Linked DNA regions of Homo sapiens: all the other regions are linked to region 6. The links come from fine-mapping of genetic effects on gene expression. A gene starts in region 6. Each other region holds a variant in brackets. All regions are shown on one strand. Distances are between the middles of the regions. Region 1 overlaps TMEM51 (transmembrane protein 51). Region 2 overlaps TMEM51 (transmembrane protein 51). Region 3 has its middle 16 kb from the start of FHAD1. Region 4 overlaps TMEM51 (transmembrane protein 51). Region 5 has its middle 2.2 kb from the start of FHAD1. Region 6 holds the start of TMEM51 (transmembrane protein 51).

Region 1 (4,088 bases), 30 kb after region 6:
GGGACTCTTAAGCGCTCAAATTAAACCGTCTTTTGGATTCTCTCATTTTTAAAAACTCAAAGCCTCGTTCCCAGGCTTCGGTTCCTAACCATCTTTCTTTACTCCCTTGCAAGAGATTCGGGCTGATGGTTACCGTCATGTCTAAGTAAACGATGAGCTTCCCACCCCACAGCCCTGGCTCTCAGGTCATGGCAGCAGGTTCTCGACCAGACGGGGCTCAAGGTGAACAAACAACCTTTCTGTTTATTTATTTTGTATGCTTGCTTTAGTGTTTTGCCTGTGTTGTGGGAACCACAGCATGGGTTTCTCAAGCTGCTCTGTTTTCTTTGGGTTGAAAACAAAAATAAAAGGTGAACCATCAAACCGTGACGTCTGGCTGCCTGCATGAAACTCCACGAGGGCTGGTTTATAAATTTAAAATGTGTGACTGTCCGGGAGTGGTGTCTCACGCCTGTTAATCCCAGCACTTTGGGAGGCCAAAGTGGGTGGATTATCTGAGGCCAGGAGTTCAAGACCAGCCTGACCCATATGGCAAAACCTTGTCTCTACTAAAAATACAAAAATTAGCTGGGCGTGGTGGTGTGCACCTGTAATCCCAGCTACTCGGGAGGCTGAGGCAGGAGAATCGCTTGAACCCAGGAGGTGGAGGTTGCAGTTAGCCGAGATTGCGCCATTGCACTCCAACCTGGGCAACAAAAGCAAAACTCCATCTCAAATAAATAAATAAATAAATAAATAAATAAATAAATAAATAAATAACTGCACTAGGCTGAAAGCAGAATGGCAGTACATAATAAGAGCATCCCTTCTGGAGTCAAATCCCTGCTCTCTTCTTGGCTGCATGACCTTGAGAATGTGTCACTCTTCCTCTGTGAGCCTCAGTCTCCTCATCTGTAAAATGGACATAGCCATGGCGCCTGCCCAATCGGACTGTCGTAAGATCAAGCAGGCAAGCTTTTGGCACAGCGTCAGCAAGCCTCAGCTTATGTGATCATCAGTATACCAGGACCACTCCGAGTTGAGCTGTTCAAGCTCTGGGTCTCTCGCCAACTGGCAGTGTGACCTTGAGCAAATAATTCACCTCTCTGAGCTTCAGGTTCTTCATTTGCAAAATTGAGGCCCCATGTTCTATCTAAATGGATTGTCCTGCATATTAAATTCTGGAAATAAGTACCTTAGGCAGTTGGGAGCAAGAAAGAGGACAGGCAAGAAGGGCCATAGAAGGAAAGTACTGGATCCCCAAAGCTAAAAGATTATTTACCTGGTGGCTGTGAGGAGGGAAGGCCAGCCTGACAGAGGACACAGAAATATCCACTGTTTCTTCTTTTGGGGGGCACAGAATCTCACTCTGTCACCCAGGCTGGAGTGCAGTGGCGTGATCTCATCCCACTGCAACCTCTGCCTCCTGGGCTCAACTGATTCTCCTACCACAGCCTCCATAGTAACTGGGATTGCAGGCACCTGCCACCACACCCAGCTAATTTTTGTGTTTTTAGTAGAGATGGAGTTTCACCATGTTGGCCAGGCTGGTCTCAAACTCCTGACCTCAAGTGATCCTCCCGCCTCAACCTTCCAAAGTACTAGGATAACAGATGTGAGCCACCACGCCCAGCCAATGGCTTCTAAATTTGAGTAGCCCCAGCATCTTCCCTGTTGGACTTGTTTTATGTCTGCTGGTAGAATCAACACTCTTTGGGAACATATGGATCTATGGACTTTGCTTAAACAGATTCTGAATCCAAGATGTCATTTACCAAAAAAGCACACAAGGGATAAATATCCCCCAACAGCAGAATTCTTTATTTTATAGAAGCATTCACTAGGAAATTCCTTTCAATGTTATGCATCCGTCATGTGCGTAATATGCTACTTGATTTACAAATAAGGCAGTATCGTGCAGAGGTAAAAGGTACAGTGATGGGAGCAAGATCACTCCCCACCTAGCCCCAGGTACCCCGATTCTGCCGATTACCAGCTGCAAAACTTTATGTCCCTTTGCCTCCATTTCCTCATTTGTAAAAGGGAGATTATCGTACATGGTATCTATCTCGCCTATAGGTTGCATGAAGAATAAACAAGATAACTATAGATTGCATGAAGATAATTCTTGTAAAGAAAACTTACTACCACATAGTAAAGGCACAATATATGTAGCTAGTATTCCTTCCAATACTATTTTCTGAGTGCCTTCTGTGTGTTTGGTGCCATCTGCCCTGTGTCTGCCTTCATAGAGCTTACACCAGGGATGTGGGCTATGG[A/G]CATAGAAACAGGCAAGGCAACAAATAACATAAATAAACAAGATGATTACATGTTGTGGTCATAGCTATGTCCAAAACCAGCAAGATGCTGAGACAGAGAACTGCATGGACAACTACTTGCAAATGTCCGGTTTGGAAAGCCTCACTGTGGAGGTCACATTTAAGTGACAGATGAGAAGAAGCCAGCGAGAAGGACAGTGGGGCCGCAGCCGCTCATTTCAAACATGAAGGTGCACGTGCCTCCTGCAAGATCCAACTCAGCAGGTCCGGGGTGGCCCTGAGTGTCTGCATTTCTTTCTTTCCTTCTTTCCTTTCCTTCTTCTTTCCTTCCTTCCTTCCGCCTTTCTTTTTTTTGACGGAGTCTCACTTTGTCACCAGGCTGGAGTGCAGTGGCACGATCTCAGTTCACTGCAACTCTGCCTCCCAGGTTCAAGTGATTCTCCTGCACAGCCTCCCGAGTCAGGCGTGCGCCACCACACCAGGATAATATTTGTATTTTTAGTAGAGACGGGGTTTCACCATGTTGGCCAGGATGATCTTGATCTCTTGACCTCGTGATCCGCCCACCTCGGCCTCCCAAAATTCTGGGATTACAGGTGTGAACCACCACGCCTGGCCTTGCCTTTCTCACCAGCTCTCAGGGCTGTTGACACTGCAGGACCACACTGTGAGTGGCCAGGGACTAGCAGAGGACAGGGGGCAGAGGGTGGATCCAGGTCCAGACGACAGAGTACCTTGAAGGCAAGTGGGGAGTTTGGATTTTATTCTCAGGATAGTAGGAAGCCAGGCAGAGGAGTGACATGACTGAAGGATGCTTCTAGAAGCTCATTTTGGCTGCTGCGTAAAGACTTGCTAGGGCCAGGGCAGCTGCAGAGAGACCAGGTTGGAAACTGATATCGTTGTCCAGGTGACAGTGGCTTAGACAAAGGTGGTAGTGATGGCAGAAGCAGGAAGTAGGTGGATTTGAAACCTTTGGACAGGTAAAATCAACCACACTTGCTGAGGTGTTAAATAAAGCCATCCATCATCATATAAGATATGTGCTTATCTTAATTTTTTAAAACTCAATAGTATAGAGTATAGAGCTCTCAAGCAGGGGTGATCTTGCCCTCGCGTGGGACATTTGGCAATGTCTAGAGACATTTTTGGTTGCCCCCAGCTGGGGAGATGCTATTGGTATCTAGTAGGTAGAGACCAGAGATGCTGTTATACAACCGACATTGCACAGCACAGCACTCCCAACAAAGAATTATCTGCCAGTATGTCAGTGGAGCCAGGGGAAAGAAACCTTGCATAGAAGTACAGGAAGGCAGAAATGTCCTGCCTGCCCCACCCCCATCTGACCCCCACACCCCAAAGATAACTACTGTTCCCAGTGTGCTTGATGGTCCAGACTTTGTTCTGTGCGTATACGCAGATTTCCCATAAGCCACCTCACCGGTGAAGTAATGCTTGGGAAATGCTCAAAACTTAGGAGCCCTGAGCCCACCATAGGAAAAGACTGTTCATTTTGTCAAATCTGTTCTATTCCTACCCCATGGGGAAGGTTACTGCCACATTGCCCAAAACTGTATTCATTCTATCAGTTGTGATATTTTTTCTTTTTCTCCAAAGAACTTTCCAAAAATTGCTATCCTTGTGACCTAGGCAGCCTTCTCTAACTGGGACTAACTCATGAAACCTGAGAATTTCAGTGCAGGAAGAAATGTTGGGATAATATAGTCCTACCCAAGTTCTTACTGTACAGGTGGGAAAACTGAGGCCCAATACTTCTTGGAAGTGGGGAAATCCCCTTATAATAAGTAGTCTCTTCTTCATTTACTGGGATAT
Region 2 (4,088 bases), 57 kb after region 6:
CCTGCAATCCCAGCACTTTGGTAAGGCCGAAGCAGGAGGATCGCTTGAGGCCAGGAGTTCAAGACCAGCCTGGGCAACACAGCAAGATTCCATCTCTACAAAAAGATTAAAAATTAAAACATTAGCTGGGTGTGATGGTGTGCACCTGTAATCCCAGGTACTTGGGAGGCTGAGGCGGGAGGATCACTTGAGCCCAGGAGTTCGAGGCTGCAGTGAGCTATGGGTGACAAAGAAATATGCTGTCTCTAAAATAATTTTTTAAAAAATTTTAAATACAGAAATAAATAAATAAGTAGCCAGACAAAAGAGACAGGTGGAAGGGTGTTTTCAAGCAGTAGGTATAGCAAGTTCCAAGGCCCTGTGGTAGGAAGTAGTTGGTGCCAATGAGGAGCAGAAAGGAAACCACTGAGGGCTGGTGAGCAGGAGATATGAGCTGTGACAGCAAGACAGGAGCCTCGTCCAGGCTGGTGGGGCTTGAGGGTCATGGCCAAGGAGTTTGGATTTTATGCTAAAAGTAATAAAAACACATTGATGGGCTTTTGGACATTCTTGTTACAAACTATTTCAGTCATTCAAAAGAGTATATATAAGATATATGTGAATTGTAATGAATAGTATAATAAAACGCTCATGTACCCTTCACTGTTCGCCTCCCCAGTACTATTCTTCACTCTTCATTTCTCCAGGAGGTAGTGTGTGTGTGTGTTTGTTTGTTTCTATGTTTGTTGAGACAGGGTCTCATTCTGTCACCCAGGCTATAGTGCAGTGGCGTGCTCAAGGCTCACTACAGGCTTTACCTCCTAGGCTCAAGCAGATCCTCCCACCTCAACCTCCCAAGTAGCTGGGACTACAGGTGTGAGCCACACACTGGGCTCATTATTATTATTATTATTATTATTATTACTATTATTATTATTGTAGAGACATGGTCTCACTATAGTGCCCAGGCTAGTCTCGAACTCCTGAGCTCAAGCGATCCTCCCACCTTGGCCTCCCAAAGTGCTGGCATTACAGGTGTGAGCTACTGTGCCTGGCCAGAAGGTAGCCTGAATTTGTCCTGAATTTTAGTTTATAGTCTTTGCGTTTCTTCCTAATATTACAAAAATAGAGCAACATATTGTTTGGTTTTGAACTTCATTTAAGTGGATTTCTGCAGTGTGTATTCTTCTGCAGTTTGCTTTTCTGTTCAACATTATGTTTGTCAGGATCATCCTCACTGGTGCACACAGCTGCAGTTTACTCACCTTCACTGCTGCGTACGTAATACTCCACAGAGTGACACGTTGTGGTTTATCCTTTCTCCTGGGACCAATTTCTAATGTTGAACCAAACCCTGCATTCTTGGGATAAACCCAACTTGATTATGATGTGTTATCTTTTTAAAAAATATGGTTGGGCTGGGTGCTCCCTTCTGTAATCCCAGCACTTTGGGAGGCCAAGGCAAGAGGATCTCCTGAGGTCAGGAGTTCGGACCAGCATGGCCAACATGGTGAAACCCCGTCTCTACTAAAAATACAAAAATTAGCCAGGTGTGGGGGTGTGCGCCTGTAGTCCCAGCTACTTGGGAAGCTAAGGCAGGAGAATTGTATGAACCCAGGAGGCGGAGGTTGCAGTGAGCTGAGATCACACCACTGCATTCCAGCCTGGGCAAAAAAGTAAGACTCAGGAAGGAAGGAAGGAAGGGAGGAAGGGAGGGAGACGGGGAGGGAAGGAGGGAAGCATGGATTCCATTTGCCGATTTTTGTTTAGGCTGGTGGGTCAGACTGGCCTGTCATTTTCCTCTCCTGCCTTGTTCTTTTCTAGTTTTGGTGTCAAGGTATATACATTCCTTATAAGATGACCTGAGAGTATTTCCTCTGATATTCTCTGGAGCACATGTCTAAGATGGATAATACCATGAAAGAGTTTGATAAATGTTAGCTACCATGTTGTCATCCTTCTGCAACTCATATTTTTTTGTACAGAATTCTGGCTTCTTCTGGTACCACTTGTCTTGCATAGATACCTACCCTAACCCTTGCCCTTTTCCCCCTAAAAAACAAAGAAAACACATGGCTCCCCAACATGTAACTCCAATTGCAATGCTCACAGCTTGCTTAGAAAGCTGCATCTCTGTGGTTTTTTTATAGGTGGATCTTTAACTCAAGACTAGCATGAAGAGTTGCCTTCTGGCCTGCCCTGAGTCTCCTCAAAT[A/G]ACAACAGGTAGATACCTCTCTAACTGGTTAATAATTTTTCTTTAAAAACTCAGATATAGAATCATTCATACCTCCCTTAGGGCCTCCTCAGACATGAGCAGTGATGGGGCCAACCCCAGGGTCTAGAGGTTGAGTTTGGCCAAGCCAGGACCCCAGACTGCCCACCAAGCCTACTGTGTTTTAGGGACATATTGGAAGCCGTGTGGTCCAAATCCTCTAAGCATAAAATTAGCTTCTTTCCATATTTTTAAAAGGAAAAGAACACCATGCTAAATATAGCTCGGGTGCTGTCCAGGGTCAACAAGCCAAGAACAGGACAAACAGCTGACCAGATGCCCCGCTGGGAGCTGGGTTTCTACAGACCCCATAGACCCATCAAGATCACAGTCCCCAAAGAGAGGGCTGAACTTGAAGAACAAATCTACGCCACCGTTGCACACATAACCCTGCCATGAACCCAAAAAACCAAAACTATTTTATGAAAGCAACACATAGATATTTCTGTTTTCTAATTCTTATTCTCCCAGTAAGAAAAAGAAAATGAAAATCATGGTGAATCCCATCACACACAGAAAATAACTATAAATATCATAATATATAATCCGAGTGTTGTGAAACTTAGTATGATACATTCAACAGTGTTTCTCAACCTTTTCCGCCACCTTGCCCTCCCTGAGAAGTCTTTTTAGACATTCTTTTTGGAATACTTGAAAATTTAATGCCAAGGATGCCCTGTGTATCTATTTATATTCTGTGGCCCTGTGGAGGGCCACAAACCATTATAATATCCAAGATTTTTTTCACCCTGTCCCCAAGAAACAATTTTTGCTCCTTGTGGGTGATCTTACCCCATTGAGAATACAAGCTCTAATTAACATTAAATAACAATTTTTTTTGTCTGTTTAAGAACTTACTGTTGTGCTGGTCACATACTGTTCTTGGTGCTTTATGTATATTATTTATTTATCATAACTCCCCTATGAGGTAGGTACTAGAGAGTTTTTGTCTCCCTTTTACAGCTGTGGAGACTGAAGCACAGAGAGGTTAAGTAACTTGCCCGAGGTCACACAGCTGTGAAGGAATAGAGTGAGGATGTGAGCCCAGGAAGCCTGGGTCCCAAGCTCACTCTTAACCACTCAGCTATGCTACCTTGCAGCAATACAATCAGATTGTGAAAATTCAAAAGAGAGAAATAGAAAGTAAAGGGTACACTTTCCGAGTTTCCTTCGTCCCCAGAAGCAATCATGGTACAAGTCTGAAAGGTGACCCCCCCCCCCCCCCCGGGATTTTTACATACGTGTGTATATATAAAAATACACTGTCTCTTTCATTTCAATGTAAGTACAATCATCCAGGCTTTTTCCCATATATTCATCTGTGTATGGAGAATTTTTTAAAAATTAGAATCACGCTGAACACACTGTTGTTTCAATCTTGTTGTTTGATTTAAAAATACATTAGCTGCTTTGAGACCATAATTTCCTTAAGTGCGTGAACCATAATTTATTACCCTGATCTGGATTATTGGCTATTGAAGTAATTTCTAGCTTCTCACCACTATAAAGCTGTGATGATATCTCTGTACATAATTCTTAGAAGTTGGAATTATAGAGCCAAAGGGTATAAACATTTTTGAAACTTTTGTTCTATAAATGCCAAAACTTGCCATCTAAAAAAATGCCATGAAATTGCCATCCCAATACCTTTCCCCACACTGAGTATTATCACCTGTTTTTAATCATTGACAGTTTATCAGACAAAAAGAATGTATTAATCCCGACATTTTAATCTCTGCCCATGATTCACATCTGGAGCCTGTCTTTCTCTCGTGCAGCATAAGGCAAAGCTGGAATGGAGAACGAATGAGGGCAGGCAGTGAGGGGGTTAAAGCGG
Region 3 (4,088 bases), 78 kb after region 6:
ATCCTAAGCTTATTTAAAACATTCATTGAATCCATGAAAATGGCAAGGAGGAGTCGGGCGTGGTGGCTCACACCCGTAATCCCAGCACTTTGGGAGGTGAGCAGATCACTTGAGGTCAGGAGTTCGAGACCAGCCTGGCCAACATGATGAAACCTCGTCTCTACTAAAACCACAAAAATTAGCTGGGTGTGGTAGTGCACGCCTGTAATCCCAACTACTTGGGAGACTGAGGCAGGAGAATCGCTTGAACCCGGGAGGTGGAGTTTGCAGAGAACGGAGAACCACTGCACTCCAGCCTCAGTAGCACAGTGAGACCCTGTCTCAAAAAAAAAAAAAAAAAAAAAAATTGGCAAGGAGAAATCAGTACAAACATTCTAGCTGCTATTTGGAATAAACCTTGATTTTGATGTTTATTTTTCCAGTTAAAAAAGTTTTAATGCCTAAAATTTTTCCAATGGCTGAAAGTAGTAAAAATCATCCACTCATCTTCCCTTAGGCCAATAATAGAAAGGTCTCACGGGGCAATATAGGAACCAGGAATAAGACCAGAGGGGGAGGAGGAGGAGAAGAACACCATTGACTAAGTCCTACGCATATGTTGAAGGCAGACTATCCCTTGCTCCTACTTCCTGGGTAGTAATTTCATAGACGTGTACATTATCATACACCCCTCCAGTGAATAAACACTGAATTAAATGGAATATGATTTTATCTCTGTGTATTGCTTCAACTCTGGGTTTCTGAACCTTGGCACTATTGACATTTTGGGCTGGGTAACCCTGACATGGGGCAAGGCGTGGCTAGGTGGAAGGCTGCTCTGTTCCTTACAGGAAGTTTACAGCATCCCTAGCCTCCACCACTAGATGCCAGAAGCACTGCCCAGGTGTGGCAATCAAAAATGTCCCGAAGCATTGTCAAAAGTCTCCTGGGGGCCTGGGTCAGGGCGCAAAATGCCCGTGGTTAAAAACTGTACAAACTGAAGCTTTAGGTCTACTGGCTACGGGGGGTTGCGGGGAGAATGTAGTATGGAGAAGTGGAAAAAAAGATTGTCATCTGAGCGGCAATTTCCATGTTTGAAAAACGAAATATTGATTATTGCGTTGGGCCACAAGACTGGGAGAATCAAATGAGTTAAATTATATGCTACAAAATGCTATAAAAAGTAGAATTTTAAAGAGAAATGCTTCTAGAGTTCATCTTGCTCAGCTTCCTTGTACAGGAAAGGAAAACCGAGTAAAAAGATGTTTCCCTAAAGACCACAGTAATGCTTCACAAACACAAATGATTATAATGAAATATTAAGTTGTTTCCACCCAGAAAAACAAACAACACAAGAACCAACCCAAATGCCATGATGCTGGCACCATGTGAGCATCAAACCAAATAGTGACTTCAATGGATTGAAACACATCTACATAATTCCAAATCAAATATTCCTGATGATACTTTTAAAAACTCATTGGTCACTTTGGGAAGTTGCTTGTTACTGTGAATATTGATACATAAAGGGAAAGAATCCATCATTTATTCTGCCTTTCCTGAACAAACTGTGTTTTACGGTAAACATATAATTGGCCAGGCGCAGTGACTCACGCCTGTAATCTCAACCCTTTGATAGGCCTAGGCTGGAGGATGCTTGAGCTCAGGAGTTTGAGATCAGTCTGGGCAACATGGAGAAACCGCGTCTCTACAACAAGTTTAAAAATTAGCTGAGTGTAGTGGTGTGTGCCTGTGGTCCCAGCTACTTGGGAGGCTGAGATGGAGGGATCACTTGAGCTCAGGAGGTTGAGGCTGCAGTGAGCCATGATAACACCACTACACTCCAGCCTGGGCAACAGAGTGAGACCCTGTCTCAAAAATAATAATAATAATAATAGTTGATGAAGAAAATGCATTGACAGTTGATGAAGAAGAATTCTAGCAATAATTAACAAAGGAATATCAGAAAGATCACTATTCTGCAACCTCAAAGGAAAGAATGGAGCTAGGGAATGATCCTCAAAGAATGCTAAAACTATTAGGTAAAAAGTTGATGAGGC[C/T]GGGCACAGTGGCTCACACCAGCAATCCCAACACTTCGGGAGGACGAGGCAGGAGGATCATTTGAGGTCAGGGGTTCAAGATCAGTCTTGCCAACATGGTGAAACCCCATCTCTACTAAAAATAAAAAAATTAGCCAGGCATAGTGGCACTTGCCTATAGTCCCAGCTACTCAGGAGACTGAGGCAGGAGAATTGCCCGAACCTGGAAGGTGGAGGTTGCAGTGAGCCGAGATCTTGCTACCGCACTCCAGCCTGGGTGACAGAGGGAGACTCCATCTCAAAAAAAGAAAAAAAAAATGTTGATAAGCCCAAGTGTCCACCGATGAATGAATGGACAAACAAAATATAGTCTATGCATACAATGAAATATTATTCAGCCTTAAAACAGATGGAAATTCTGACACATGCTACAACACGATGAACCTTGAGGACATTCTGCAGAGTGAAATAAGCTAGTCACAAACACACATACTGTGTGATGCCACTTATACGAAGTATCTAGAATAGCCAAACTCATAGAAACAGAAAGTACAATGATATTTCTCAGGGCCTGGGAGGAAGGGGAATTACAGAGCTAGTGTTTGGTGGGTACAGAGTTTCAGTTTTGCAAGATGAAAAAGCTCTGGAGGTTGGTTGCACAATGATGTAAATGTACTTAACACTACTGAACTGTACGCTAAAAATGATTCACATGGTAAATTGTATGTTATGTGTATTTTACCACAATTAAAAATAAAAACTGTCTGGGCCTGGTGGTTCATGCCTGTCATCCCAGCAATTTCGCAGGCCAAGGCAGGAGGATCACTTGAAGTCAGGAGTTCAAGACCAGCCCGGCCAACACGGTGAAACCCTGTCTCTACTAAAAGTAAAAAAATTAGCCAGGCATGGTGGTGTGCACCTGTAGTCCCAGCTACTTGGGAGGCTGAGGTGGGAGGATCACTTGAACCCAGGAGGCGGAGGTTGCAGTGAGGCGAGATCTTGCCACTGTACTCCAGCCTGGACATCAGAGCAAAATTCTATCTCAAAAAAAAATTAAACATAAAAATTAAAAGTCACTGGAGAAAAATTTGATGAGAACTTTATGATGGACAGATCAGCCTGTCAGCACTGATCCTACCTAGCCATCTTGGCATCATTAAAAAGGGCCAACCAAGATGTTACATGTCCACGATGTGACACAGGAGGAATCAAACAGCCTGCCTATGAAGTAGTCTTGACAACAAGAAGACCAGATCTCATCAGGCCTCGAGATTTCACTCTTAGTTTGCAGGAAACATGGGGAAGAGAGGAATAAGTTAATTGAAACTATGAAGAAGCAATCAGTCAAATCTATGGTGTGAATATTCTATAGGACGAAACACCCAGTTTCTCCAGCCGATCAGTGGTATGAAAAAGGTAGGGGATGCTGTTATGGAATAAAAAATATTTCAAAGACATAACAACCAAACACAACGTGTGGATGGCGTCTAGATCCCGATGTCAACAAATCATCAATACAACGACATCTCTCAGAGAATCAAGAAAGTGTGAGCATGGATGGATGTTAGACGATATTCAGGAACTGTTACTAGTATTGCTAGTGTGATAATGTCATGGGGAAAATAATGTCATAAAGGTGGGGAAGCTCCTTTTAGTCAGGAAGTATTTATGTATGAAATGACACAATGTGTTTTAAGTTAATCCAAAAGGAAGTTAATCAAAAAGGAAGAAAAAAGCGATAAAACAAGATTGGAGAAGTATCGAAGCTGGATTATGGGTACATGGGGTTAATGGTACTCTTTTCCCTACTTTTGTGTTGTATGTTTCAAAAAACTCCATTATAAACCCCAATTTTTTTCCATAGAGAAGCAATATGTTTATATTAAAAACTATAACTCTCTTCTATAAGACATTTCTAATGCAGACGTGAAGATTAATTTGATTTCTAGCTACTTCTAGCCCCCAAACTACCAGCATTTTTTTTAGTTTCAATTTTTATTTTAGACACAGTGAGTACATGTGCAGATTTGTACATGGGAATACTGCATGATGCCGAGGTTTGGAGTATGG
Region 4 (4,088 bases), 62 kb after region 6:
ATCCAACATTGACTCTGCAAACTTTTTTTTTTCGAGACAGAGTCTTGCTCTGTCACCCAGGCTGGAGTGCAGTGGCACAATCTCGGCTCACTGCAACCTCCATCTCCCAGGTTCAAGCAATTCTCCTGCCTCAGCCTCCCAAATAGTTGGGATTACTGGCACGTGCCACAGCACCCAGCCTTTTTTTTTTTTTTTTTTGTATTTTTAGTAGAGACGGGGTTTTACCATGTTGGCCAGGATGGTCTTGATCTCTTGACCTCGTGATCCATCCACCTCGGCCTCCCCAAGTGCTGGGATTACAGGCATGAACTCTGCAAACATTTTTTGAGTCCCTGCTGTGTGCCAGGCTTAGAGATGATGACAATGTGGTCATGGGAAGAGAGAGACTCACCACGGTGGTTGCTGGAGGATTTGGGGAGCACATGAAAGGGGCATCTGAGCTATGGGTGACCAGAGAAATGTTCTGGAGGGTGGTTGGGGGTGGGTAGTGCAAAGAAAGGCAGGCTGAGACATGCAGTAGGAGAGGCAGGAGCCAGGCTAAGGCCACCATGAGCAGCATCATTCTAAGAAGCTGGATTTTCTCCTGCAGGAAGTAGGGAGCCATTGAGGGTGGGGAACAGATGACAGTAGGCTGTTTGGCCTGGTCATACCATTGGCTGAGGCCCTGTCCCCCAGGTGAGTCTGTTACAACCATCGATTGTGGACCATTCATCCCATCGCTCACTCTCCCAGCAGCCTCCAGCAAGAGCTACGATTTTACTGCACTTCATTAAATTCCACACAATGTTTTAATGACCTGAGCTCCGACCTTTCTGGCCTCCAGCAGGGAAAGGTCTGGCTTTTCCTTTTCAGGGAGTAGCGGGCTGGGCAGACCGGCCTCCCTTCTCGCAGCCTCGCACAAGGAGCCTGAGCACGTAAGACATCTGGAATGCATCAAAGGCGAGGCCCAGCCAGAGCCGGCGTGCTCGGTGCTGCTGCCTAACTCCTTCAAGAGCAGAGCCGCCACATTCACAAAGCGTCTGGAATCGGAACTGATCGTCCTCTCTGCTCTTTCTGCTTTCCTTCCAGGCCCTTCCACCGCAGCCATCCGCACGGGAGGCCTCGCGATTGCTCGGAACCATCCCGCAGGAGTTCAGCTGATATTTTCTAGTGTGGGGCGAGAGATTTTGTGGAGCGCATTTAAGGGGTTTTTGTTGTGACTGCTGCCTTGTATACATTTATTTTCTTTCTTGGAACTGGGCCTCGCCCTCCTCCCACTGACATGATGGCCCAGTCCAAGGCCAATGGCTCGCACTATGCGCTGACCGCCATCGGCCTGGGGATGCTGGTCCTTGGGGTGATCATGGCCATGTGGAACCTGGTACCCGGCTTCAGCGCGGCCGAGAAGCCAACAGCTCAGGGCAGCAACAAGACCGAGGTGGGTGGCGGCATCCTCAAGAGCAAGACCTTCTCTGTGGCCTACGTGCTGGTCGGGGCCGGGGTGATGCTGCTGCTGCTTTCTATCTGCCTGAGTATCAGGGATAAGAGGAAGCAGCGGCAGGGCGAGGACCTGGCCCATGTCCAGCACCCGACAGGCGCTGGGCCTCACGCCCAGGAGGAAGACAGGTGAGGCCTGACTGTCCCCTTCCCTCCCCGGATCGGGGATGGGCACGCACGCATGCACACACATGTTCACACCTTTCCGTGGTGAAAAGACTGTCATCTACAGGCTTTATTGTCCCATGTTCGCCCATGA[C/T]GCCTCTGTCAAAACGGTTTATCATTTTACAAATAACTTTAGACTTTTCTACCAGAGCTTCCCAAATAGCATGGTACAAATGGATTACAGGTAAACCAAGATTTTTTAAAAATTTTATTACAATAGATTTTTACACCATGGAATACTATTCAGCCATAAAAAGGAACAAAATACTGTCTTTTGGGCCAGGTGCAGTGGCTCACTCCTGTAATTCCAGAACTTTGGGAGGCCGAGGCAGGTGGATCACTTGAGGTCAGGAGTTTGAGACCAGCCTGGCCAACATGGTGAAACCCTGTCTCTACTAAGAATACAAAAATTAGCTGGGCATGGTGGCACATGCCTGTAGTCCCAGCTACTGGGGAGGCTGAGGCATGAGAATCGCTTGAACCCAGGGGAGTGGAGATTGCAGTGAGTGAGCTGAGATACCGCCACTGCACTCCAGCCTGGGTGACAGAGTGAGACTCTGTCTCAAAAAAAAAAATACAAAAACAAAAAACTGTCTTTTGCAGCAACTTGGATGGAGCTGGAGGCCATTACTCTTAAGTGAACCAGCATTTTGACCCGCCCAGGGTCACTGAACAGGGCCTGGGGTGGCCAGCATATTTGCTTGTCCCTTCACCCCAGCATGCTGTGTGTATGCTTTAATTTGAAATGGCTGGGAAGCAATTTTCCATTTGAGCAAAAATGCCACCAACAAATTTAAAAGATAAGTGATACATTGGGGAAGATATGATAATAGTTGATATCCCTATTATAAAAAGAGCTCTTAGAAATGAATATGTAAGATGAATATACCAATAGGAAACAGACAAAGATTATGAATATTCCATAGATGTTCAACCAATAGATGTTCAACTTCATTAGTCATGAAATGCAAGCAAAAAGATGTCTTTTCTTTTTTTTGCCTATCATATTGATCAAGATAGACAGCCCCTACTGTTGGAGAGTTGTAGGGAAGATGGATTGCTGATGAAATGTTGACTGATAGAAACTTTCTTAAGAGTTTCACCATAAGGGGCAGTACTGAAGATGTGCGTATTGATCCTATTTATAAGAGTTTATCCCTGGGAGACAGTCCCACAGGTGCAAAGGAGTTTGTACCAGTATATTTATCAGATCATTGTTTAGGATAACAAAAACTTAGAAACAACCTAAAAAACCACCTACTGAGTTAAATGACGTACCTATTCAATGGAGTTCTATGCAGCAACTGTTGATCTATATTTGTTAATGTGGGACCATATCCACAACAATGAGAAAAGGGGGATATAATACAGCATCTTTGGTCAGGTTATGGTCCCATCAAATGTTGTGGCTGTGGGATTGGAGAGGGGTAGGAAAGGTATACACCAGAATGTTACAGTGGTTTGTCTCCAGGTAGAAGGATTCGGGATGTTTTTCTTTTCTTCATTAGATGTTTCTGTGTTGTTTGAATTTTCTACAAGCATTTCTTATCTTTATAGTGGGAAGGGAATTGTTCTTAATGTAATATGGATTAAAGGGAACCCTTGGTACACTAATGGTGGGAATGTAAATTAGTGCAACCACTGTGGAGAAGTTTAGAGTTTCTTCAAAAAACTCAAAATTGAGCTGCCAAATGATTCAGCAATGCCACTTGTGGGTACACACCAGAAGAAAAAAAAATCTCATTATATTGAAGGGATTTCTGCCCTCCAATGTTACCAGTTACCACCCCTTTCCATGGTAATGACCTGGAAGTTACCATCCCTTTCCTAGAATGTTCTAAATAGCTTGCCCTTCAATTTACATTAACCCACTTCTTACTTTTGCACATAATTGAAAGTGGGTGTAAGTGGGTACAAATACAATTTCCAAATTAAACTCATTTTCTGATAGCAAAGAATAATATATGCTGTATTGGTCAGGGTTCTCCAGAGACACAGAACCAGGGGGATATATATTTTTTTAAATGGAGATTTATTATGAGGAATTAGTTCCTGGGATCATGGAAGCCAAAAAGTCCCACAATTTGCCATCTGTAAGCTGCAGACCCAGGAAAGCAAGGGGTATAATTCATTCTGAGTTTGAAGGCCTGATTGAGAACGAGGAGAGGTGAGGGTATAGATCCTAGTCTGAGAGCAGGAGAAGATGAAATGAGATGTCCCAGCTCAAGCAGTGAGGCAGGGAGAAATGAGTCAAATTCCTGCTTGCTCTGACTTTGGGTCTATCTAGGGCCTCCATGGGTTGGATGGTGCCACCACACTGAGGAGGGGAATCTGCCTTACAGAGCCCACCGAGCTGAATGCTAGTATCTTCCAGAAACACCCTCACTCTCACAGTGTTTAATATGGGCAACCATGGCCAGTCAGGTTGACACCTAAAATTAACCATC
Region 5 (4,088 bases), 91 kb after region 6:
AGGGAAGTGAGGCACAAACAAAATACAACAAAAACCAGGCCCAGGACAGGTGGGGCCAGCACACTTTGCAGTTTTTGAACGGATGGTACAGACAGACCCCCCCACAGCAAAGCGCAAGGAACCAAGGGGAACTGACTTTGAAAAATGATTTGCAAGATAACTGAATGCTCCAAACCAGCATGAAAGAGTCGACATGAGACGAAGCTCCATATTTTCTCATTTTCTGCCACGGGAAAAGGCAAGGATGGCTGCAGAAAGCCTCAGTTGCCAGTTATTCTCTCCATGGTTTGAAATTATTTTCATGAGTCTCTGTGTGTAGGTCTGTATATAAAAATCTGTACTTTCTAAGCTTATATGGTCAGGTTACTAATGGGCCGTGGAGTCTCTAGTGGGCCCTCTGCTCTCTGTCATCCGTCACCCTGCGCAACAGCTTGGCTATTTCCTGCACTCTTTACTCTCTTGTTCTTGCTCTTTCTCTGGCTCTCTTTCATGCCATAGAGGCTGAGGAAGCCTCCACACCTCTCCTGGCCGCGGCTGGGGCCTGAAGCCAGCATTCATTTCATGTTGGAATGCAAGGGCAGCAGGAGAAACATCACACAGTTCTCTGAGGATGGAGCACAGGGTTAGGCTCTCCCCAGGCAAGAACAGCCCAGAGAAGGTGGCTGGGAAGGAATGAGATTTTACGGGGGCAGAAGTTCTGCAGGAACGAAGCCTAGTGCCCAATGTCAGCAGGTAATGTGGGTGGCAGGCCTAAGCTGCCTCCTCTGGGCTTATGCCCCCTTCACTCCCTGCCCTGGGCACTGCCTGAACCTTTGGACAGACAAGAGTGCAGGCTGCTCAGAAGTGAGAGAAAGCAGTTGTGAGTAAGTGGCATCTTGTGATTGTGACAGCTGTCACCTGTAGTTCCCCAGGGGAAATACCTTCCTTGTCACATTCATCTCGATTCAAATCCTGCCAGATTTTCTAGCTGTGTGACTTTAGGCAGATTTCTCCCTGTCTCTGAGCCTTATTTCCTACAATATGGGCTTCGTCGTCACCAAGAGTTCAATAAAAGGTTAACTGTAGGCACTGCCAAGAAGCACAAGTAATCTAGAAACATCTATTTTTTTTTTTCAGGGACAGTATTTTTAATGCCGCATCACTGTTTAATTGCAATGTACAACTCTCTTACTCAGCCCAGGAAATTATATCATAAAACCCTAAGTTATTGGGTATTTGATTTTCTGTTTTTGAAATGAAAATGGATGATACGGAATTGGGTTTCAAGAACTTTGCACACCCTTGAGATAACAGTGGCATCCTGAGGGACAGAGGATCCAATTAAGATTTGGCAACTTCGGCTCCACTGATTCTGAGTGTCAGCTTTGCTCTCAGTTTAGGATTTTTTGTTTTTCATTGAGATATCAGCTAACAGCAACAGATGATCTCTCAAAGCCTGGTGAGGGGCATGGGCTGTTCCAGCTCATGGCCAGCCTGGGTTTCACTGGGGTCTGTCTGATAGCAAGTTTGTGTCCTGGGTTCATGTTAATGACAAGAGTTTGACCAAAGACAAGCATGGAGGGGTGGTGGTAGGGATGGAGGTGGTGTTCAGGCCTGGGCAGGGGACTAGAGAAGCCGACATCCTGGGGCGAGGACAGGTCAGCCCAGCAGTCCTCAGAGGACAGGAGGCCGGGCTTCAGAAGGGTGGCAGGGGCTTCCCCCTGCATATTTATTCATTCAGACATTGTTCTAGGGACTGGTGGCACAGCAGCAAACAAAACATGAAAAAAGAAATTCCTGCTTTCATGGAGTTTAGATTCTACCAGGGGTCAGGGAGGGAGACACAATAAATAACATAAATAAATAAAGAAATAGTATGTGAGTTGATGATAAGTGATGTATTAGTCCATTTGTGTTGCTATCAAGTAATACCTGAGGCTGTGTCATTTATCCAGAAAAGAGGTTTATTTGGCTCACAGTTCTGCAGGTTGTACAAGAAGCATGGTGCCAGCATCTGCCTCTGGTGAGGGTCTCAGGCTGCTTCCACTCCTGGCAGAAAGTAGCGCCTGCATGTGCAGAGATCACATGATGAGAGAGGAAG[T/C]GAGAGTGAGCGAGGGGGAGGTGCCAGGCTCTTTCTAACAATCAGCTCTTTAGGAAACTGATAGAGTGAGAACTCATGCACCCTACAGGAACAGCACCAAGCCATCCATGAGGGATTCGCCCGCATGATCCAAGCACCTCCCGCCAGGCCCCACCTCCAACACTGAGGAGCAAATTTCAACATGAGATTTGGAGGGGTCAAATATTCTAACTATAGCAAGTGGCAAAAAGAAGGGAAGAGGGATAGAGTGTTGAGGTTTTTATTTTGTTTGGATGTGCTTTTGTTGTTCTTATTTTTATTTGCTTTTGTTGTTCTTATTTTTATTTGCTTTTGCTGTTCTTATTGTTTTTATTTGCTCTTTTTTGTTGTTTATTAGATTTCATGGTGGTTGTTTCATTGTTTCAAAAAACCAATTTTAGAAAAGATGATATGTGAGTAAAAAGCTAAAGTAAAGAAGGCAAAGGAGACTCTTGAGGGGAAGTGCATTCCAGGCAGAGGAATGGGCAAGAGCAAAGGCTCTGAGGCAGAAACGTGTGGGAAGCTGAGCTTGACCCTCTCTGTTCCTGTGAAGCCATCACTTGGGTCCCAGCCCTTGTGGTCCCTCCTAACATTTTACGCCTAGAATCTTTCTGGTTGTAGGAAACTGATCCAGGCAGAACCTTCCAGACTGAGGGCCTGGAAGAGATTTGTAGGGACAGGCTCCGGGAGAGGTCTCTGCAGTTCAGCTGCATAAATCAGGGTTTTGTCAAGCTTGTTGCAAATGCACATTCCTGGATTATGTCCCAGGCCTGCTAAATCAGAATCTCTGGGGTCTGTGCCCAGAAGTCCGCATTTCTAAAAGCCTCCAGGCACGTTTGAGCATCTTCACTGTATATTCCACCACAAATCGATGTCCATGATTTCTCTCTCAGATCCTCTTCCTATTGACTAGGTGTATTAGTCTGTTCTCACACTGCTATAAAGTAATTCCTTGAGACTGAATAATTTACAAAGAAAAGAAGTTTAATTGACTCACAGTTCTGCACTGCTAGGGAGGCCTCAGGAAACTTACAGTTATGGCGGAAGGCCAAGGGGAAGCAAGGAAGCTAGCATGTTGTAACATGGTGTAGCAGGAGAGAGAGAGAGCAAAGGGGGAAGTGCCACACTTTTAAACCATCAGATCTCATGAGAACTCACTCGCTATCATGAGAAAAGCAAGCGGGAAGTCTGCCCCCATGATTCAATCACCTCCCACCAGGCCCCTCTTCCAACACGTGGGGAGTGCAATTCGAGATGAAATTTGGGTGGGGACACACAGCCAAACCGTATCACTAGGGTAGAATGTGCCATAGTTCATCTCTCTTAGAAAAACGTTTAGAGTTTTTCTTGAGGTGTCTGGTCAGCCATTTCCTGCCAGTGAAAGGAATCACTCTCCAGGTAGAGTCAGCAGGAGATAGGATTTCCTGCTGGAGATAGTGGCGGGAGATAGGATTTGCACATCTGCTCAACACACTCCATCCCGCGAGTCCTGTGCCGGCTGACAAGCGGTTTCTTAAGGACAGTAACTGTTCCAGGTGTATTCTGGGATCAGCGTGTGACACTCATAGGACTCAAAAGATGTTTGCAGAGATAGAGAAAGGGCAAAAGAATGAATAAATGTCACTCTTAACAGGGAGGAGCAGAGGCAGCAGGATTGTGAGTTTGGAAATATTTTTTCCCCAGCACATGGAAGAAATCCTCATTCTTTCAAAATTTTTCATTCCACCCCATCCCTTTCCCAATCCCCACCCCACTCCCAGAGATCCCCTCTTCTTACTCTTTCTATTTTCTGGCCTGTAACGGAAAGGACTAGAGATTTGGGTAGGGCAGGGGGCATACTAACCTCCAAGGGTCTCATGAGTTCAGCTCCATCAATCTCCTACCTCTCCCTATCGCCCCCGACCCTCCCTCAACGCATCCAGCTTACAGTGAGGGGTAATGGAAAGGATTCTTGAATCAAATCTCCTCCCTGCTCCTTCCTCGCTGTAAA
Region 6 (4,088 bases):
GATTAGGAGCTGGGACAGCTGTTCTGACATGATCACCCCCCGCCCCCACCCCAGGCCTCTCCAAAGTCCATCTTGCAGAGTCAAATGAAAACCAGATTCCTGGTCTTATCTGAGAGCTACGTGACTGTTTCCTGTCACTCCTTTGGAGCCTGGGAAGGTCCCCACATGCATTGTCTAAACTTTGGGATGAATACGCACAGCTCTTAAATGGGAGCATATTATTATAGGTACCTGCCTACACAAAGGGTCCTCCCTATTCACTAAAATCATGGGTTATTATTTAGGGCTTTCATTCATCCAACAAATGTTTATTCCGCATTTGCAGGTGGCCAGGCAAGGTGAACATTCTCTCAGGGTGGAGAGTATGTGCAGACAGGAGGAATTATGCTATGGGAGGGAGAGCAGAAGCTCTGGAGTGGATCATCTTGGGTCTAGATCCTGATACTTCCCAGCTGTGTTTTCACTGGGCAAAATGACCTCACCTCCTTAAGCCTCAGCCTTCTCTTCTATAAAGTGGGCATAACAAATAACCGCCTCCTAGGTTATGAGGATTAAATGAGATGGTTCAGGGGATGTGGGTGGTAACCCCGCCCCTGGTTCATAGCAAGGATGTGAGGAATAGCAGTTGCTGTCATAGACATGGAGACTGTTTCCCCAAATGCCTTCCCACCCCCAAATCATAAGGCAGACCCAAACTTGCCTTTTTGTGGACGCCAAGGTTCTGTCGAGCTGTTAGGGTGCAAGTTAAGAAGCCAGAATGGCGGGCTGAGGGGAGAAATGCCCGCATGTTACAACTCTGCAGGTGTACACACGTGGACACCATATGTACCCATGAATTCCGCCTTTGGAAGTGAACTTGATTGCAGCCTATTTTCGTCTGGAGGCGGTGGATTCCCGGTAGGAGGCGCCTTCAGTCCTCGGCTCGATCCTGTGACGCCAGCCAGCTGCCTATCGGCTTCTCAGTGTTTGAACTTCAAAGGGCTGGACGCTCACCCAAGAAGGGGACCCCGGCCTGACCTCTCTCGGAATTCAAAAAAATCTAAGGCTCAGAGAGGGAATGGGAGCTGGCTCTTCCCTCTGTGTTTAGCATCCACGTTTTTTGGCGGTCTGGCTGAAACCAGCCCACCCTAGTTCGGGCGCCAGAGCAACGCAGTTCCGAGGGCAGATCTCCAAGGGGCGGAGGCAGAGCCGCGGGTGAGAGGCTTCCGCGCCGACTTCGGGTTTGCACTCCCCGGAGCCAGAACTCCGTGGCGGCTCCGGGCCTCCGTGGATCCGAGCAGAGACTGGCTGCCCGCCTGCCACTCGCAGGCTGGGAAAACGCCAGCCGGTGCCTCGCCGGGAAAGTTCTCGGCAAAGCTGGGGATGAGCCCTCAGCAGGGCAGGCTCCCGGTGCAGCGCGCCCCCATCCATTGCCCGCGCGCAAGAACCCGGAATGGGCCCCACCTGGGCCGGGACTCGGGCGTGCGATCCCGAGGGCGCCCTGGGGACCACGCATCGGGTGGGGACCCTGGCCGAGGGCGTGAGCTGACTCAGTTTTTAAAAACTCGCTTCCTCCTTCCCTACTTGTGCCGGTCACTCACCTCGCTGGGAACCAGCCCAGGGCAGAAGGGGGAGAGGGAGGCGGTGGCCTCCCCAGGAAGGAGGAGAGGTGAGTATCCCGCCAGGTAAAGGCGGGGCGGCTGGCGGAGCTGTGCCTCGGCGTCTGCGCCTGGTGTGGGAGGAAAGCGGGTCTCCCAGCTCCACTTAAACCCCTAAAACCTGGGACTTCTAGCTTGAGACATTCCCCGACCACCACCCGTCACACACACGCGCGTGCGCGCACACACGCATGCACACCGATTCTCTGGGCCCTAGGGAGGAGGGGGGATCAGGGCTCTATTTTCTCCCGACCCCCTCTTATCCAACTCGGCTGGCAAGGGTTGGGGAGAACTTAGGCCCAGCCCCCGGCACACGCTCAGCGCGCTCCAGCGGCATACGCTGGGGAGTGGGTGCCCGCCTCGCTCAGCTGCGATCCCTCGCCTCGGGCCCGGGGGTGGTGCCGAGGGCCGGGAGGGAGGGTCGGCCGGTGGGCGGTGCTTCTCCGGGCTGGAGGCCGCTCCTGGCCGGCACCGCCCTCCGCCTCCCGCGGTCCCTCCCTCCCGCACGCCGGCGCTCCCAGGCCGCGCTTCCTGCGTCCCCAACCCGGTCCCTGAGAGGGCAGTGCGCCCTCTCCACCACTGCGTTCCCTCGGCTAAGAATCCCCCGAACCCCAGCCCCGCGATCGCGGCGCCCACCGAGGAGGCCGCCCGGGTGGGGCGCGGGGGTCGCGAAGCCCGCAGTCCCGGACCGCCCAGCCGAGACGGAGCCGGACCCGCCGCCTCCCGGGTGAGTCTCAGCCGCCGCGCCTTGCGCCCGCTGCTTCCCGCGGCGCGCTGTCGGTTCCCCACAGGGCCGTGTAAGGGGGCCGAGGCCCGTTTGGGTCTCCTGTCCGTCCGTCTGTCCGCCGAGCGCTTCCCGCCTGGGGTCGACCACCGGGAGGACTCCGCACCCCGCACCCTCTGCGGCCGCGCCCCGCCGGCGCGGGACGCTCCCGCCTCCCGGGCACCGCGCCTGGCCAGCTGGCCTCGGCTGGGGAAGGCAGCTGGCCTTGGGGGCCCCCTGTTGGCGGGAACAGGTGCTATCCGCCCGGCGGGCTTCGAACCCTTGGCTTCGCCAGAAGCGCTTTCAGCGCGTGGTTAGGAGCAGAACTTCCCAGTAGGTCCCAGGAAACCACCTTGGCGCTTTGCTCGCGCATCCCTTACTGTATGGAAGTCGGGGCCTTTTAGGGATTTAGATTCGTGTGTGTGTATGTGTGTGTGTCGCTCTACAAGCAAACACGGGGGTAAAGAATCGGGCATGAGCAAAGTGGATTGAAACTCGAGTCCTTCCCTGAGCGCGTCGGTTTCTTCATCTGTGAAACTGACATGACAACGTCCCAGGGTGCGGCGGGGCATTCATGCCCAGCACCCAGCAAGCACTCAGCGGTAAGTTACGTTACCGGGCCTAGGGGAGAGCAGAGTACAAATCAGATCTCAAATCAGCGCACAAACGGGAGGCGCTTGGCCCGGCGCGCCTGGTCTGCATTACAGGATAATGGTCTCTTTCCCAACCAGCGGTGGGGGCGAGAGACCTGGCCCCTCCCCCACGGTTTCCCCAGGGAGCAGCCCGTGGGGTGTCCTGCGCAGCGCTCCGAGGTGCCTGTGACGGTGCATGGGACTGCGGGTCCTTCCCAACAGCAGGGGAGGTCTGGCTGCTGGGAACCCGGGCGCTGCCGGAGTGGGGTGGGCGGGGACGAGGTGGGCGGGGCAGGGACCCGAACCGGGAGGTAAGTCAGCGGGTGGAAGGCTTTCCCCTCTAGGACCGGCCGGCTTCTGGCTTTCCTTTTGAATGGGTTACCCGGAGAACAGCTTGTCTAGGGAACTGTTGGCCCTGGGACCGTGAACAGCTTTCACACCCCGGAAACCTGTCACAAGAGGATCCTGACCTATTGGGACAGAGCCCCTGCCCCTCCAAATATCTCACTCCACCAATTGAGAGGTACCCCCAGACTGGGAGAAAAGGCCAAAGAAAGAGAGAGGAGGCTAGTGGTGAACCTGCTCCTCACGGCTTCGGAGCTGACAGCTCTCTGATGGGGTGTCTGGGGCCTGCCCCAGTGACCCAGAGCCCAGAAGCCTCAGGGAGCCCCCAGCCTAGTGAGGGAGTCAGGGATACTCATGAAAAGTGTTGCAGAATTGGCGATACAGTCAGGCCACACCACTTGCTGGCTGTGTGACCTGACCTCTCTGAGCCTCAGCTTCTTCATCTGTAAAATGGGATGATGATCTCCAAGGGCGAGGTGGGGTATTTATGCCTAGCACATGAAGTATTCTATAGTAAGTTATGTCACAGGGCTTAGACGAGAACAGAAGAAAGGAAATAACTCAGGAGGTCCTGCTAAGAAAAGAGTATTAGAATATTCATCAGGGAACTGGAGTCCCCCCAGGGAACAGGGGAGGAAGGGTGTCTGGGCAGATCGAACAGCACAGGCAAAGGCACAGCGACAGGAGAGTGCCTGGGGTGTGCTGGGCTGG

What was found.
Region 1: its variant is fine-mapped to the expression of TMEM51 in whole blood (INTERVAL, PIP 0.96).
Region 2: its variant is fine-mapped to the expression of TMEM51 in whole blood (TOPMed, PIP above 0.99).
Region 3: its variant is fine-mapped to the expression of TMEM51 in whole blood (INTERVAL, PIP above 0.99).
Region 4: its variant is fine-mapped to the expression of TMEM51 in whole blood (INTERVAL, PIP above 0.99).
Region 5: its variant is fine-mapped to the expression of TMEM51 in whole blood (INTERVAL, PIP above 0.99). The same link has a PIP of 0.9 or more in blood mononuclear cells.

What each region holds. Positions count from the first base shown.
Region 1 is chr1:15,181,449-15,185,536 of GRCh38, forward strand. The region is part of intron 1 of TMEM51 (transmembrane protein 51); the gene reads left to right. Among named protein-coding and RNA genes, the nearest start is that of TMEM51-AS2, 12 kb to the left of the region's middle. The variant A/G (reference allele first, on the strand shown) is at 2,259.
Region 2 is chr1:15,208,361-15,212,448 of GRCh38, forward strand. TMEM51 (transmembrane protein 51) reads left to right here. Exons shown (of 4, transcript NM_001136218.2): 2 at 2,130-2,202. Among named protein-coding and RNA genes, the nearest start is that of FHAD1, 37 kb to the right of the region's middle. The variant A/G (reference allele first, on the strand shown) is at 2,195.
Region 3 is chr1:15,229,232-15,233,319 of GRCh38, forward strand. No RefSeq gene overlaps it. Among named protein-coding and RNA genes, the nearest start is that of FHAD1, 16 kb to the right of the region's middle. The variant C/T (reference allele first, on the strand shown) is at 2,040.
Region 4 is chr1:15,213,827-15,217,914 of GRCh38, forward strand. It overlaps TMEM51 (transmembrane protein 51), which reads left to right. Exons shown (of 4, transcript NM_001136218.2): 3 at 1,069-1,605. The coding sequence starts at 1,262. Among named protein-coding and RNA genes, the nearest start is that of FHAD1, 31 kb to the right of the region's middle. The variant C/T (reference allele first, on the strand shown) is at 1,736.
Region 5 is chr1:15,242,950-15,247,037 of GRCh38, forward strand. It overlaps a transcript of FHAD1 not described here. Among named protein-coding and RNA genes, the nearest start is that of FHAD1, 2.2 kb to the right of the region's middle. The variant T/C (reference allele first, on the strand shown) is at 2,081.
Region 6 is chr1:15,151,591-15,155,678 of GRCh38, forward strand. TMEM51 (transmembrane protein 51) reads left to right here and starts at 2,157. Exons shown (of 4, transcript NM_001136218.2): 1 at 2,157-2,364. TMEM51-AS1 (TMEM51 antisense RNA 1) reads right to left here and starts at 874. Exons shown (of 5, transcript NR_027136.1): 1 at 701-874. RefSeq lists silencers at 1,980-2,249, 2,310-2,359, 2,450-2,629 and enhancers at 2,339-3,000, 2,780-2,869, 3,001-3,662.